2 separate regions of the Homo sapiens genome follow, and region 2 is linked to region 1. Evidence: fine-mapped expression QTL. A gene starts in region 1. The other region holds a variant in brackets. All regions are shown on one strand. Distances are between the middles of the regions.

Evidence for each region.
Region 2: its variant is fine-mapped to the expression of TP73 in whole blood (TOPMed, PIP 0.97).

The regions. Positions count from the first base shown.
Region 1 is chr1:3,650,966-3,653,858 of GRCh38, reverse strand. TP73 (tumor protein p73) reads right to left here and starts at 1,343. Exons shown (of 14, transcript NM_005427.4): 1 at 1,218-1,343. RefSeq lists a silencer at 783-1,732 and an enhancer at 2,692-2,893.
Region 2 is chr1:3,672,211-3,675,103 of GRCh38, reverse strand. All of the region lies in intron 1 of TP73 (tumor protein p73), which reads right to left. Among named protein-coding and RNA genes, the nearest start is that of TP73-AS3, 4.7 kb to the right of the region's middle. RefSeq lists an enhancer at 1,176-1,395. The variant G/A (reference allele first, on the strand shown) is at 1,415.

The DNA of each region.
Region 1 (2,893 bases):
CGTAATGCATACATTCATATATGGCAACATTTCAAACACCGTGTCCTGTTCTTAATGAAATGCTTTTTAATCTTTCCCCGAATAAATCCAAAGAGGGGTGGCTCAGCGCTCAGTAAGTGCCAGAGGCCACGCGCTTTGTTTACTCCTCCCCCAGAGCTAAGGCTGAACAAATAAACAGCAATGACAGCAACAAAAAACAAAACAACAAAAACCAAAGCATTGTGTTAATGAGCCTGAGCCATTTCCAAATGTCCAGACAGTGAATAAACAGATGGCAGCATCTTTGGAAGCAAATGACCTCTGGTCAGAAGTTTGGGGTGCATTGCTTTTCCCTGCACCCTTGCTGGTTGAAGATCGTCTATCTGTCCCCTGTTTATGTAGCAGACGTGTGCATACTACATGGGCTTATCTCCTAGCGTCCAGGCCAAAATACAAGCTGAGCAAAGGTAATCATCGCTCCCCAAGTCCAAGCCCCGGGAAAGGCAGGGGCTGCAGGAGGAGGCGGCCCAGGAGCTAAGGGGGCGTGAGGTGTCTCCCTCCAGGCCGGCCCGGGCCATTTCTTCACGGGCTTTCTCTACCTGGGACCGCTCCGGAGACAGGCCAGGAGCCCTCGACAGACAAACTCAGAGCCACAGGGAGCTGTCCCTCGGGAAACCATCGAAACCGCTTAGTAACCAACTCCATGGGTCAAGGCCCCCGCCCAGATCCTTCTCCCTGTCCAGAGGGGGGCCTGGCCCTGGCTCCTCAGGGAAGCTGAGGCCTCGGGATTGGCACAGCCCTGCAGGTCGGAGGGAGCGCGCGGGCGGGGAGGAGCTTGCTGGCGATTTCCACCTGCACCCGCGCCCCGCACCCCGGCCTCTTCCCGGGGTTACCCTCCCAACGGCCCTCGGAGCCCGGGGTGGAGAGGGGACAGCAGGAGGAGGGCCCTCCCGGAACCCCTGCGGGGCTGTCTTTGGCGCCAAAGGCGGCCGGCGCTGAGGGCAGGACCCGCGTCTCCTCGCAGGCTAGACTCTGGCCGCTCCAGCCTCTCGCGAGCGCCAAGTCCCAGGGGCCGATCCAACTCCGAGGGAGCCCCTGTGTCGCCTTGTCCCAGCTCGTCCCCGATCGCTCTCCCCTCACCTCCCAGCTTCGGAGCTGCGAGCCCAGGTGCCTGCCCAGCGCTGCGCTCCAGCCCCCGCCCGCGGAGCCGAACCGCCCCCCGGCCCTGGGCCTCCTACCTGCAGCCGTCGCAGCCCCGGGCATCGGCGTCCGTCCCGGCTGGCCTGGCGCGGGCCCCGGTTTCGCTGCGTCCCCTTCGCGGGCGCGCGAGCCTCCGGGCGGGTGCGCGGGCGGGGAGGCAGGGCGGGCTGCCCGGCCCCTAGGCGGGTTATATGGGCGCGGGGAGGGGAGGCGCCGCGGGGAGTAGGCGGCCGCGGGCGTTAGCGCCTTTTTAGCCCGGCGCGCGGGAAGGCAGCGCGGGCCACCGAGTCGCGGCGGGGCCAAGGTCTCCTCCCGGCGCTCCGCCTCTCCAGCTGGCCGCGTCCAAGTCGGGGTCCCGGGCGCGCTCTGCCCCGCCTCCTTCCCGCCGCCTTTTGGCGCGCGTCGCTCCTGCAGAGCCCGGCGAGGCCGCCCACGCAGGGCCGAAGCAGGTCCGGCGCCAGGGCCCCTCCCGCGGGCCAGACCCGACCGCGATCTTCGGCAGAGCTGGGGACGCCGGTGCCGACTCTGTGCCCGACGCCTGCGTTTCCCCCGGACTCCCTGCTGTCCCCCAGACGGCCCATCTTTCCTGACACCCGGGTCTCTCCTGGCCGCCGCCACTAGCGCTGGGCTCCTCGGCGCGCGGGGCGCTTGGAATCCAAGGGGCAGGGGATGTGGCCGGCGGGGAACAGGGGTGAGGGGCGGGGAACAGGGGTGAGGGGCGCCGCCCCAGGCCCAGGAGGAGGGGAACGGCTGCTTTCCGCCAAGCAGGGCTTGCCACCCACTTCTCCTGTGGAGCCACGGTCCCGCCCGGCAGAGGATCCCGCGGAGAGCCTCTGGGGGCTGCTCTCCCAACCCCAGCCGGAGTTTGGGCCCCACGTCCTTCCAGGGGTCACCCAGGACGCGAACACTCCCGGGCGGCGGCCAGCACCCTGCTCCCTCCCCCGGCCGCCGCCTGTGGGCTCGGGCTCTGGATCCCGTTCGGTGTTTGGAAGGAGCTCGCGGGCGTCGGTGCGCTTGGAGTTGTTCTCTGCGCGCACCAGACCTGCGCTAGGTCAGGCCGAAGCTCTCTACCGGCCAGCGACACCCGCCGCCCCGCCCGCCTGCTCCTCCTAGGCCATCGGGGCTTCCAGGGCCCTCGACCACGTACACCAGGCCCTGGCTAGGGGACCCGACATGCTGGGCGAGTTCCGAGCGGCTCTCAGTGGCGGCGCTGCTTATGGTCTGATGCTTATGGGGCCCGTGATCTGGCTCCGAACCGATGTCCTCTGCCCATGGTGACCCCCACGTCTTGGAAAGTCGCGTCAGTGAAGCCCGTGGCTTCGCGAGCGAGCCGGGCTGGCGCAGACTGGGTTCTCTGGCCGCAGCGGGTCCGCGCCTGACGGGGAGGGTCCGGCTGACTCGCACATCTTCATGGCTCACCCACTGTTTGCTGGGCGCACGGGGTGGGGACCCAAAGACGAATCCCATGCAGAGGTTTGGGTCTAGTTTTGGCAACAGAAAAGGCCGGCACCGCCGGAGTAGGACGCGCGCGCACCACCATCCATTCGGCCGGGGAGGTTGGGGCGTCCGCGGGGAGCAGACCCGAGGCTGGGCGCCCGGAGGTACGAGCAGGACCCTGGCCGGCTCTCAGCTCCCAGAACCCAGGGCCAGGCGGGGATGTCAGGGTCTGCGCGATCTGGGGGGCCCTAGAGGCGCCGGCGGGGCCTGGCGCGGA
Region 2 (2,893 bases), 21 kb before region 1:
GCCATTGTGGGAGGAGACACCTGGGCCATTGTGGGAGGAGACACCTGGGCCATTGTGGGAGGAGACACCTGGGCCATTGTGGGAGGAGACACCTGGGCCATTGTGGGAGGAGACCGTCTCAATCCCCTTGTGCCCTTTTCCCAGGGACTCAGGCAGGTCCCAGGACCCAGAACCCAGAAGAGCCCCCGCCTGGGCAGAGGGGTCGGGCGGTCAGCGCACCAGAATGAAGCCAGGCAGGCTGGCCCTGTGTGAGACAGCGGCTCTCCCAGGCAGCAGCCCAGCGGAATTCCTGCAGGGCGTCATCAGAGCCCAGCCTCCTGGGGCCCTCTGTGCCAAGGGGCCTCACTCTCCCCTCCAGCCACCGCAAGAAGAGGGGCCGCTCTCGCTTGGCAGGCTGGGGCCAAGGACAGGGGTCCCCCGGAGTGAGGGCCAGGAGGGCCTCCCTCTCAGGGGCAAGGCCCTCTGCCAGCATTGCCTGCCCCTCCCGACAGAGGCTAAGGACCATGTGGCCTCCCTCTGTGGGTACGATGGGGCCAGGTCCTTCAGACAGGGTTGCCAGGACGGCTTCGTCAGCAGGTCAGGGGCAGGGACGAAGGCCTGTCCGCAGGGCCTGGTGAGGAGGATGCGGCTGAGAGCCCCCCTCACCGCCACAGATGGCACGCCTGCTGCCCCACTCCCCTAGTTTGGGGAAGCCCAGCATGGGGATGAAAGACAAACACAGCCTCCCACGGTGGGGTAGCGTGCACCGTGTGAAATATGCGGACAGCTGGAGGTGCCTGAGCAAGCTGCCCTCTCTCTCCTGGGCCGTGGCCCACGGGAAGCGGGAGGGGAGGGGAGGCAGATGCCCAGGACAGTCTGGGGGAATCCCTGAGCCTCACCCCAGAAGCTTTGAGGCCATGACCAAACCAAAATGCCCGACCCCCCGTGGGTGGGGGTGCCCCCAACCAGCTTCCTGGGTCAGTTCACACTCAGCCAAGTGAAATGTAGAAACACCAAAGCATGGCTAATTCCCGGGGATTCCAGCCACCCCACGACGGCCCAGTGAGGCCACACACCTGTTACCAACCAGGAGACATGCACAGAGAGGGAAGACCAGCCCTCCATGGGCACACAGCTGGTCAGGGTGGAGGTCGAACCCAGCAGCCTGGCTCTACCCTGGCCTGACCTGGAGCTGAGCAAGGGAGGCACGGGCCCGGCTGCAATCCCCTCCCCAGTCCGTGTTCCCACCGCACAGCCACACCCCGCACCCTGCCTGGGAAGCCCCTCTCTGGAAATCCCCTGCCTGTCCATCTATCTTCACCGGTACATTGAGGCCCAATCCACATCCAGACATCCAAGAGGCCCGCCTTGTCCTCTGCTGCCTGCCCAGGCCTTCTTGCTGTCATATATGTGTTTGGGTCATACCAAGACACAT[G/A]ATTCCTGCCCCACCGCTTCGTGCCCTGAAGCCCAGCACTGCCGGGCACACACTCCAGTTCCCTCTCCTGCTCTGCCCACGCAGCCCACCTCTGCCGCGCTCTAGCTGTGTGACCTCAGATAGATGTCTTGCCCATTCTGAGCCTCTGTTTCCTTGTCTGTAAAATGGAGATAATTGTAGTGCCTCCTAGAAGCGCTAGGTGGAATGAAGTAACTCTACGCATATCAAAAGCGAAAGCACTCCTCTATCTGGGCACACCGTGGATGCCCCATAAACCGTATCGAGTTGCCATTGACCGACGGTTATTTAGTATCAGGTGGTGGCAGTGGAGGAAGAACCAATGAGGCCCGGGTCCCAAAGGCACCAGGCTGAGCGACAGAACTGCACACACGGGGGCGGAAAGGTGGGGTCTGCTGGCTGCCGGGTCCCTGGCTCCTTCGAGTGCCTCTCCATTTCATGGTCAGCACGCGTGTCTCACCCCACTTTTACAGTGGTCTCCGCACCCTTTTGCAGAGCACCAGCCTATCCTCAGTCTCTCAGGGAATGAGGCGTCCTCGAAACGGGTAGTGCCCAGTTGCAGCGGCAGCCGGTGCCAGCTCCATGCCCGGGGGCATGCAACGCGGTAAACAGATAACCCTGGCCCACTGGAGGCAAATCATGTATGTCTGTGAGGCCCTCAGAGGCTGGGTATGAGGAGGGTGGGTGGTGGAAGAGAAGTCTGCACCCCAGCCCCAGCTTGCTTGCGCCTTGGAGTGGGCGGTGCTCCTGGGGGTAAGCGGGTCAGGAGGGTTTGGAGGTGGGGTCAGAAGCATGAGCGGCCTGATGGGCTGAGCTTCCTCTAAGAAAGGGGTGGAAGGGGTGGGCAGGGACATGGCCCTTGGGGGGACGAGGTTGGCGGCAGGAGGGAAGTGGGGCCCTGTCAGGGAACTGGGGCGCTGAGCTTGGTGATGTTTCCTGCCAGGAGCCCACCTGTTAGAGGAAGGGCGACCCTGGCGGGGGTGGTAGGAGCAGATCTGTCACTAAGGGAGGTTCAGACCAGCACAGTGGGCACAGGAAGAAGACCCAGAGGACCGACTGCCAAGGATAGGGGGTGAGGGGTCCAGGGCTGGGACAGAGCGGAGCTTATGGCCAGAGTGGGTGTCTGAGTCGATACCTGTGTTCACAGGTGATGAGTACAGCGCTGCCCTCAGCAGGGCAGGTGACTGATGGGGCCGCAGCCGCCTTCGCTGGAGCTGCCACAGCCTCGTTCTGCACAGACACATCCCTGTCCTCTGCCCCCTCCGATCCTCCTCTCACACCCCCTTTCTACCCCAAGGGATCACACCGGGTGTCACTAGCCTTTGTGCGGCCAGCGCCCATGTTGGAAGTGCCTGTGCTGTCCTCCAGAATCTTCTTTCTTTCCCCAGAGAAGCACTTCCACTCCTCCAACCAAGAGAGAATGACCCTTCTCAAGCTGCTGTCCCCACCTGGCCACCCTCC